2 separate regions of the Homo sapiens genome follow, and region 2 is linked to region 1. Evidence: fine-mapped expression QTL. A gene starts in region 1. The other region holds a variant in brackets. All regions are shown on one strand. Distances are between the middles of the regions.

Evidence for each region.
Region 2: its variant is fine-mapped to the expression of DAGLA in cerebellum (GTEx, PIP above 0.99). The same link has a PIP of 0.9 or more in cerebellar hemisphere.

The regions. Positions count from the first base shown.
Region 1 is chr11:61,677,664-61,683,026 of GRCh38, reverse strand. It overlaps DAGLA (diacylglycerol lipase alpha), which reads right to left and starts at 2,636. Exons shown (of 20, transcript NM_006133.3): 1 at 2,523-2,636. RefSeq lists an enhancer at 1-439.
Region 2 is chr11:61,708,741-61,714,103 of GRCh38, reverse strand. All of the region lies in intron 1 of DAGLA (diacylglycerol lipase alpha), which reads right to left. Among named protein-coding and RNA genes, the nearest start is that of DAGLA, 31 kb to the right of the region's middle. The variant C/T (reference allele first, on the strand shown) is at 2,371.

The sequences.
Region 1 (5,363 bases):
GGCAGAGAGCAAAGCACTGTGCAGCCACCCTCATCCTCCCCACCTGGGAAGGCACTTCAGCCAGAAGTGGGGCCACATTGGGAGAGGTGCCACACCTGTCTGCCCTCAGAGGTGCCTGTAGCCCCCTTTCCTTTCCCCTATGTGTCTGAGGGCATCCTCCACACCTCCCCCCCCCGTCCCCCTGCCATCCAGCCTCAACCTCCCGCAGAACCATCCAGACCTGAGCCACATCGATCTGTGGATGCTCTGACCCACTTCATTTCCTTCAGGCCACAGCCCAAAAGACGCTGATGTGACTGCTCCCCACCCCCGTTCTCAGAACCCAGAGCCAAAGGAAATTCTCCAGAGAAAACACACACACTTCCCAAGTCTTCCTCCCACACAGGTACCCTAGATCTGTCAGCCACAGACACCTCCCAGACCTACCCTGGCAATGAGGCACGTCTGCTGCCCAAGCAAAGTGCTTCCTCCTGCTTGGGCCACTCCTGCAGGACTTCACAGCTGCCGGGGCCATGCTCAGGACTGTCCTCTGGAGACCGGGGGCCTGGTTCCAGCTCAGCAGCTGACTCACAGTGTCAACAGATCCCACTTGCCCCCACCGGGAGCATGTGCGCTCAGGGCCTCTAATTCCCTATGACAGGCCCTCAACCTTCCGGCTCCCTTCCTCCCAATCACATCCCGTGCCACCATTTCCTATGGCTCCTGCCTCCAGCCCTGGTCTCTTTACTTGATGAGACTCTCTGACCTTTGTACAGTCTTTCGCTGTTTGCAAAGTGTTTCCACGTGCACCATTTCCTTTCATTCTTTACTACCAGACCACCATGTGACATGCCTTGATTGGTGAAGTCACCTGCTGAAGGTCACACAGCCAACACTGGAATTAAAGTGATATGGCTCCAAAGGCATCGGACAGTGCTCCGGTTATAGGGAACTCATCAGCATCTCCAAGCACCCACCTTGGCAATTTGGCGACCACCTGCCACCCTACCCTCAACATCATCTTTTTGGACTCATAAGTGCCTTCCCCAGCACAAGCTCAACCCTGTGATTCTTCTACCACTGATCCCACTCCCCCAAGAGATCCACAAAGAACTGAAGATTTCCCCTACACTGTAAGACTTCTCTAGGAGGAGCTGCAAATTGCTTCTCTGTAAAGTAAGGCACTAGGTGATGCTGAGTGAGACCTTCACCCAAAGCTTCCCAAAGGACTGGTGAGAGCAAACACAATCTCAGCGCAGATGGAGGGGTTTTAACATAGGAGCTAAGCAGAGAGGACAGACAGAGCCCTTGGAAAGGAATTTAAGCCTGGGGGTGGGAGTCCCGGTGGCCCCAGCAGATTCCCAGTGGCTGCAGAATCATCTTTCAAGCATACCCCAATCGATCCAATCCTCTGGACCCAAAGGCTCCCCAGCATCAAAGAAGAGAGGCAACTCCCAGATACCCTGGAGTGAACCCATCAACCCAGGGAGAAGGCAGGACCCCGTGACTACAGATAGATGGTGCGCCATACCACTCCCTCACTCGCTGACCCGGGTTACCTCTTGGTCCTGCTTGCTTCTCAGGACATATTCTGGGACACCGATCACCACTGAAAATCATCCACCCCTCCCTTCATTCCCAAAGCTAGATGAAAAGCTAGATGAATGGTTCTCTCTACCTTAGCCCAGGACAACGGTAGTGCCTGGAAGGTCTCTATCTGGGTTACCATCAGGGCCCTTGTGGTAGAAGCTTCTCCTGGCATCTCTTGTTTATGCCCATTATAAAGGACACCAACCTTCTCCCAGCCTTCTGCCCTCCTCAGTCCAGTGTACCCAACAGGCATTAAAACTGGACCCCCATGACAGAGGCAGTGTCCCCTTCATCGCCCGTGAGGAAGGATGGGCATTTACCCTTCCCATTCATCAGGATGGGAGGGCCACGGACTCCCCCCGCGGCAGTGCCGGGTAGCCCCCCGCACCACACCGTGCCAAGGCCCTTTCTCACAGTCATGCCAGGAACTCTAGCCATGCTGAGAACACCAATTCTTCAAGCCCCCAGTGCTATCACCCCAGATCATGTCAAGCCCAAGGCCAGAACCATCCCAACACCCAAGCAATGGCAGCACTTCCTCACACCCATGCTAGCGGCACCACCATGCCGGCACGAGCTGGCCACCTATCCCATAACCAGTCCGAAGGCCGTGCCCATCACCTACCTGTGCAGACAGCTGCACCACCTCACACCTGCGTGGCCACCACCGCACCAAGGTGGAGGCGAGTCTTCTGAGACCCGTTCCAGGAAAACCACGCCGCCTGTGCCGGACCCACGTTGCCCACGCCCGTGCCACGCGTGTCACCATCCCCACGCTGGTGCCAGGGGCTCCACAGACCTCACACCTGCCACGGGCGCGCGTGGCAGCTGCAACTCCGCCCGCCGACCCGTCGGGCCGGCCACCGCGCGCCCTGGACACTGCCCAGCCCGCCGCGCCGCTCGCACCGCGCCCGCGCCCAGGACCGGCCCGCCGCGCCGGAGGCCCCCCTTACCTCCCGCCCGCCGCAGGGCTCGGCCCGCCGCCGCGACCGCCACCTCCATCCTGGGCTCCCCAAGGCCCCGATTCACTAACGCCGCTTCCGCAGGGCGCCGGCGCCGGCGCGAAGGCCGCCTCCGCCCCCCGGGGGACGCTGCGTCCTTTACGTAAACCCCTCTCCGCCGCCAGCGGTGACCATGGCGACGGTCGTGGGGAGGCAGCGCCCCCTGGCGCCAGGGAGGGGAGCGGCGTCGAGGCCAGGGAGAGCCGAGTCTTCCGCGGGCGCCGGCCCTGCGCGTGGGGGCGGTGGGCGCCTGGCTCAGGCTCGGCTGGGGTCCCGTGGGCGGCCGGGAGGGGCTGGACTGGCCGCGATGCGTGCGGGGAAGGGAGCCGCCTGGGTGCCTGCCCCTCCTTTAGGTCCCTCGTGACCAGTTTTAGCGTGGGAGAGGGAAAAAAGGAAGTAGGATCACTGGAGAACTGGTTCATTTGTGGGGAGGAGAGAGACGGGTCCCACCTCCTCGGGGTGACTGAACTCTGCTTGAGAAGTCAGAGCATGGCTAGAGTTCCTGGCGTGACTGTGAGAAAGGGCCTTGGCACGGTGTGGTGCAGGGGTCTACCCGGCACTGCCGTGGGGGGAGTCCGTGGCCCTCCCATCCTGATGAATGGGAAGGGTAAATGCCCATCCTTCCCCACGGGCGACAGAGCCCGTGGGTACCCTGGGTACCCCCTCCTCCCTACCACCCCCCCACCCCCCACCCCTACCCCCGTTCCCAGTGCCCAGCATCGTGCCTGGTCTCCAAAGGGGTTTACTTGGTCAATTTTGAATTTCTGGTAAATGAAGAAAACCGCCCCTCCTGTTCCCCTTCACGCCCTTTCATTCACCGTAAGTCGCTTACACCTCCCTGGGAGCACTGTGCTGAACTGGGGGAGTGGAGCACAGAGAGGAGCAGAAGGCGGGCCCTGACTTCAAGGAGCTCATTCTGCTGGGGAGGAGACGCAGATGGAGGGGGTTTTAACACAGAAGCTAAGCCGAGAGGACAGACAGAGCCCTTGGAAAGGAATTTAAGCCTGGGGATGGGAGTCCAGTCTGCAGGTCGGGATGACTCAGCTGGGTCCCAAAGATCCAGTAAAGATTCATCAGAGACAAAAAGGGGAAGAACGTTTTCTTTCAGGCAAGAGAAGTGCCTCTAAAATGTTTCCTAGGCCCTGTTGCCACCCCCAAAATCACAGTGATCGCGCAGTTCAGTAGAAGTGGGAGCCATAGGTGAACAAGGAGGTGTGGGTAGTGGGGTGCCCGGCTTGAGCAGAAGCCTCGGTCTGAAAATTACGTGGACATTTGGGTTGGAAATGAGACTGTGAGGCCAGGACTGCCTTTTATTGAAGCAGATGGAGCCACTTCTGGAAGGAGTTCTGTGTTACCTGTGATTATTTAGAAAGCAAACTCACGTAGGTAACAAGGAAAATGAGGAGTGGGCGCATATACCCAGTGGGGCACCTCAGGGGATTCAAGGAGGAGTTGAATTCCTCAAGGCTCAGGAAGGGCAGAGATCAGGGGAGGCTTTAAGGGACAACTGTAGCAGTATCAGTTTAGGGATCTTCTTTCTAGATCATTGCCATTAATCAGAATCAAAACTGCCAGATTGGATGTCTCTTGGTTCAAAGTTCCCGATTCCCAGAAAAAAAGAATCTTATTAGTCCAGATCAGGCCACGGTCAATCAGCTATGGCCAGGGCAGAAAGTGCTTTGTGATACAAACATGTCAGTCCACTTTTCCCCGTTGAGAGACACTCCCAGAGGAGGAGAATCATGACCTGAACAGCCAGTCCAAAGACTGTCGGCCAGGGGCGGTGGCTCATGCCTGTAATCCCAGCACTTTGGGAGGCAGAGGCAGGTGGATCACCTGAGGTCAGGAGTTCGAGACCAGTCTGGCCAACATGGTGAAACCCTATCTCTACCAAAGTACAAAAATTAGCCTGGCATGATGGCAGGTGCCTGTAATCCCAGCTACTCGGGAGGCTGAGGCGGAAGAATCACTTGAACGTGGGAGGCAGAGGTTGCAGTGAGCCGAGATCGTGCCATTGCACTCTAGCCTGGGCAAGAGAGCCAGACTCCATCTCAAAAAAAAAAAAAAAAAAAGGCTGTCTACTACGGATCCATCCCTTAGCTGTCCCATGTACACAAACTCACATGTGTCCATGTGCACACATGTGTCCCGACACACGCCAGTCCTTCTTCCCATTCCTCCAAAGTTGTCTTCACCAGACAAGTACCAACAGTCACCTTCACACTTGATGTCATGAGGCTACTATTATTTCAAGATCTTCAAGGTGATTGATCCCATCTGGTCATTTAACTGAATTAAAGGGTTACTTTTACCATCACCAAATCCTTTGAACTCTTGCTACTCAGAGTGAGACATTGGCACCACCCAGAAGCTTAACGGGAATGCATAATCTCAGGCCCAAGAATCTCAGGTTGGCAACAAGATTCCCAGGTGATTTGAATGCACATGAAAGGCTGAGAAACACCACTATTATAAATGTTAGGTGACCGGGTGCGGTGGCTCACACCTGTAATCCCAGCACTTTGGGAGGCTGAGGCGGGTGGATCACCTGAGGTCAGGAGTTCAAGACCAGCCTGACCAACATGGTGAAACCCCATCTCTACTAAAAATACAAAAATCAGCTGGGCATGGTGATGGGCACCTGTAATCCCAGCTATTCGGGAGGCTGAGGCAGGAGAGTTGCTTGAACCCGGGAGGTGGAGGTTGCAGTGAGCCGAGATCCCGCTACTGCACTCCAGCCTGGGCAACAGAGTGAGACTCCGTCTCAAAAAAAAAAAAAAAAAAATAGGCCCA
Region 2 (5,363 bases), 31 kb before region 1:
CTAGCACTGGACGCCACACTTCCTGGTTGCCAAAGTAAATGTGGAAACTGGCAAGTTTGTAAGGGCTCTTTTTCGCTCTGCAGGGTTTTTTGACCCTTGGTGTCCTGAAGGGAGAGCCCAGGACTCCCATTTCCATGACGAATGGGATTCCTATGTGAAAGGGCTTTGAAATTGGAAGGTGGTCCAAAATAGTGGAGAGGAACTGATGCCTACTGCCTGCTATGCTCTCGTGGTCCATCCGATTTTGAATGTGCCTTGTTGGGCACTGGAGCTTATCTGGTCTGGGGGTGGGCATCTGATCTGCGGGACTCAGCACAGTGAGGCTGGGCCCCCCAGTGGTGCCCCGCAGGACACTGGTGGCCCGCCCCCCAGCAGAGGCGTTGTGTTCAGAGGCTCCACCCCAGCTAGGGTGGGCTCACCAGCAGGTCGCTGTCTGGCCTCGCTGGGCTGGCAGACAGGTCCTGCTCTCTTTAGCACAGGCTTTGGTCGTGGTGAGATTCCAGCTGTTCACTGTGGCTGCAGGACTGTGGTAGCGAGTTAACCTCTCTGCACTGGTGAAACTGCAGGCTCCAGGATCCTGGGTAGTGACAGGGACAGAATGATCTCAGCCACCTATAAGTTGGGGACTGGGCTGCTTCGGTTCTCCTAACATTTATGAATTGCCTACAAGGTCTCGGCGCACATCTATGCCCTTTACAAACATGAACTCACCTAGTCCTCATAACAGTTCTGTGAGGTAGGTACTACCCTTCCCCTTATTTGACAGATGAGCTGAAGTGACTTGCCCACAGCCACACAGCCTAGGCCCAGAACCCAGGTCTTTACCTCTGCATGCTGTTTCTGAGAAGCAGGATTCAGCTAAATGCCTGTTTCTGAACTCAAAAGCTGGCTCTAAGCCTCTTCTTACAGACTGAGGAGCTCTCTGGGTCTTCATCTAGCTTCAGACTCACAATCATGTGGGATAGCACGGGACCCATTCTGCAGATGAGGAAAACTGAGCCCAGGGGAATTCCACGGAGCAGGCTGTGGAGTCGGGAGAGAGCAAGGCACTAGAAACACTATGTGTCATCCACCTCCAGCCTCATCAGGCCACAGGGTATTACCCCAACTTTACAGATGAAGAAACCAAGGCTCAGAGAGGCAAAATGGTTTGCACGAAGATCCCTCCACGAGGACATCGCAGAGCTGGGATTTCAAGTAGCTTCCTTGAACTACTTGCAAGAAAAAAATACCCTCTCTGCCTGTCAGTCTGACTCCTTATTGTCACAAACACAGAGACAGTAGGACCCACAGGTCCCACCCCAGGCTCCCGGGGCTACAGTACCTTCCCCTTCTTCCCAGTGGCCGAGAGGCTGGCCTCTGAAAGCACAGGAGGGGAGAGGTGACAAGGGAGACGACGGAGAGAAAGCACGTGTGGGCTGGGGGCCACGTGCGCCACCAGCCTGTACCTGGGTGTGTGCAACCCAAGTTAGGGGCCTGAAAGCTGTCGCTTTTCACACATCAGCTGCGCTAGAGCAGAAGGCAGAGCGGAGCCTGCCCAGGACTGGGGCCAGATTTCAGCATGAGATAGGTCCTCACACGCCCAGGCCTAGGGATGAAAACAGTGTGCCTTGTGCAGCCAGGGGCAGGAGTGGGAGGCCACTGACATTTGTCCCCTCCTACCCGCCGCCCAGGGTCTTAGGCTAACAAACGCCTTTCCCACTCTCCCCCAGGATGGCCTGGAAGGACCAGAGGAGGCACCTCCTCCACCCCTCACCATGTGCCAGCCACATAACCATCCTCACTACAACCCCAGGGGTGGGTCTAGCTGTTCGCATGTCATGGATCGGGAAACTGAGGCTCCAAGAATTTAAAGAAGCTAGCAAGTGAGTGTCCAAGTCAGGCTCTGAAGCCAGGTCTACCTGCTGTGTTCTCTCTGTGCCCTCCTCGTGCTTCTTGGCCAGAGACCCCTCCCCTATAAAACAGCAGTCAGGGAGCTGGGCACAGAGTTCAGGGAGGAGGACGGAAAGAGAAGCTCCAGTGACTTGGGGGCAATGCCAGCCTGGGCCGGACCCAGAAATAGTTCCAACAATTACTCGATCGTGTTTATTTAAAAACAAACTCTTATATAGCATTTACTACATGCTGGTTACTTTAACAAGCAGTTCACAAAAATTACCTCCTTTAATGTAATCCTTTTAACAACCTCTTATGCCCTGTATTATGGATGAAGAAATGGAGGCCCAGAGAGGCTAAATAAGTTGCCCAAGGCCACTCAGCTCTTCAGCGGCAGAGCCAGGCCTGAGGTTGCAGGGCCTGTGCTCCAGGCCTCTCCCCAGAAGGCTTCACCAGGGCTCCATTTATTACCAAGGCTCCAGCTACTCGTTCTCA[C/T]GCTAATTATTTTCTACTCATCCACAATGAGCAGAATTTGCCATCTGCCACCAGCCCTGCTACTGACACCAGCCAACTCCCTGGGAATCAATTGAGGCCTTTCGTTTCCTGCTGGTTATTTTGGAAAGATGGCTGGCTGCTGGGGAGCGGGAAGTGAGGGCCAGGAGGGCAGCAGCACCCTTCCCTGGCGACCAGGCTGGGCCCTCCTCCTGCCCCCAGCCTTCCTCTGACCTCTCTTCCCAGGGGGATTCACATCAGAGCCCACTCAGTCCTGTGCTCCGACAATGTTTTCCAACAGTGGAAGGAGTCCCCCAGGCTCTGGCCAGACCAGGTCTGGCTTCTGGATTCTTCCTTGGAGATTATTCATTTTTCTGAAACTCAGAACAAGCCCTTGTCCCACACGTCCACATCCCCTCTGGAGAGGCCCAGACAGGCGGGTTCTGCTGGCCTCTGTGATGGGTGCGGCCGGGCAGCCTGGATCTCCAAGCCCTCACGCAAAGGCCGACACCGCCCCACACTGGGTGGCACCAGGCTGTTTTCTCCTGCCTGTCTGTGGGGAAGGGTGTCTGTGGTTTTCGTCCTTTCTACCTGCCCCGGTGGTCTTCTTGGTCAGTCCCCTCATGCCCTAACACGTCTTTACCCCACTCTCCCGGGAACGCGACTCTCTCAAAGGCATCGACTTGGAGGGGGTGGCCATCCAATGAGCTGACCGAGGCCTGCCTTCTGGCCCCAGAGCAGGGCAGCCCGAATTTGAATCTTAGTTCCATCACTTCTAGTTGTCTATGACTGTCACTTCACTGAGCGTCAGTCTCCTCATCTGTAAGATGGAATAATGAAGGTACTCACTTCATAGTGAGTGAGTCATGAGGAGTTAACGAAATAACGCACATAAAGTGCTCAGCTCTTAGAAAACAGGAGCTGCCATCATTGTGATTTAGTAACCATGTCTCCCCAGTGTGCGCAGAACCTTTACCTCACCTTGCATGGCAGGGGCAATAACTCTCCGCGATCTAAGTCAATCTTCCCAAACAGACAGGTGAGCAGGCTGACCCACACCTGCCCTCACCCTTCCAGCCTGCATAATCCTCTGACTTGCCTTCTTGGAAAGGGAGAGCTCCAACTCCTAGGAGCCCAGCACGGCCGCACTGGCACTGCCTCCTTTAATCCACAACCACCCAGGGAGAGGGGACCCAACACCCCTGGGACAGCTTGAGCCACAGAGTTCTCGCCCAAGGCCACAAGACTCTAGAACACTCCAAAGCCTGAGATCCTGCCAGGATGCCCCGCATCTATCAGCTTGCATGTTTGAGTTTCAGGGTGTCTCATTGCAGGCCCCTTCCCAGCTCAAACGCAGGATGCCCTGAGAGGTAGCGGTCCCCCCTCCCTTTAAGCCCATCTGCCCTTCCAGCTTTCCACTGGCCCCACCCTCTGCTCCTCCCCCCAGAGTCACCCCCTCTCCTAGGAGCCACTTGCTGGGACCTCACTCCCCAGATGGCCCCCCTGCCAGGCAGTTCATCAGCTCCCAGCACGAATCCCAGCGCTCTGGCTTCTCAGAACTTCCTTGAGAGGAGACTCCGTCTGGGTGCTGGCAACGCCTCAGTGAAGAATTAGTACCTTCCACTTCATTAGGGGCCCCCTAATGAAGCTGTTAATGATATGCTAAGTGGGCACACCTAGCCTGATGCCTCCCCTCTTGGGGCCCCCGCCCCCTTGCCCAGCCTACCCTGAGCCCTGGTCCTGCTGCCTCCTCTCCTCAGGCTGTGGGTTGGCCCTCGGGGTCTGGCTGGTGTGGGTGCCTGCTGCTCAAAGGTGGGGAGGCTTCGTGGGCCACCTCCCTAAGCTGCATGGCCATCTAGGGCACAGGCTGGCCAACTGGGCTATTGGGTTTCCCTTCGACTGTACCCCGGGCATCTCGGAAGCAAGCAGGGATCAAGTGACTTCGTAACAGGAGCTCTTTCCCCAGGGGAAGAGGTTCTGCAGAGCTCTAGTATGTGACAGGAAGGGCCAACATCCCCTGCCCCCACAGAGACTGGAGAGGGAGGTGGCACCTGCCACCACCAATGGCACACAGGCTGCAGCCCCGTCCCCTCCCTCTGTCACCCTCCTCTCCTTCTGTGCTCAATGAGGGGGATCTCAGTGCTCTTCAGTGGGTTTCCAGAAGCCCTCAGGGACCCCAGATGAGGGGAGGTGGCCATAGTGGGCAGGCTTCAGTGGGCTTGCAGGCAATGTCAACCACAGCAGCTTTCAGCTGCTCTGGATCACCTGAGGTCAGGAGTTCGAGACCAGCCTAGCCAACATGGTGAAACCCCGTCTCTACAAAAAATTAGCGGGGCGTGGTGGTGCATGCCTGTAATCCCAGCTACTTGGGAGGCTATGGCAGGATAATTGCTTGAACCGGGAGGTGGAGGTTGCAGTGAGCGAAGATTGCGACATTGCACTCCAGCCAGCCTTGGCCTCCCAAAATAGCTCTAGGTGACAGAACTAGACTCTGTCTCAAAAAACAAACAAACAAACAAACAAACAAAGTTTGAAAGCCACTAAGCAGGATATGCTCTCAGGTCCATTCTAGTCTGGACTTTTAGAGTTTTACTTGCAGAATGGCCAAGGAGAGAGCCTGGGGGCTACATACAGGTGCCTGAGCTCACACAATGATCACAGCATTTCCTCCCCTCGCCTGAGCCAGGAGGGCAAAAGGGGCCACAGAAAAAAGTCACTGACCCAGAAGCTTAGAGACCTGGGCCTACAGCTGACTATTCTGTCCTTCAGACCTCCCTATCCCCTCCCATCACCCCAGGCAGGGCAAAGCTGGACCCAAGCACAAGGCCTCCAGGAAGGGGCAGGGGCTCAGAAGGCCCCTGCTGCCGGGTGGAGGACAGGACTGGACCCGGCTTTGGTCCCAGTGCCTTGATTTACTCAAACGGCCACAGAGTTGTGACCTTCAATATACAACGCAGCCCTCTCCTCGTCTATAAAATAGGATGAGGATGATGACA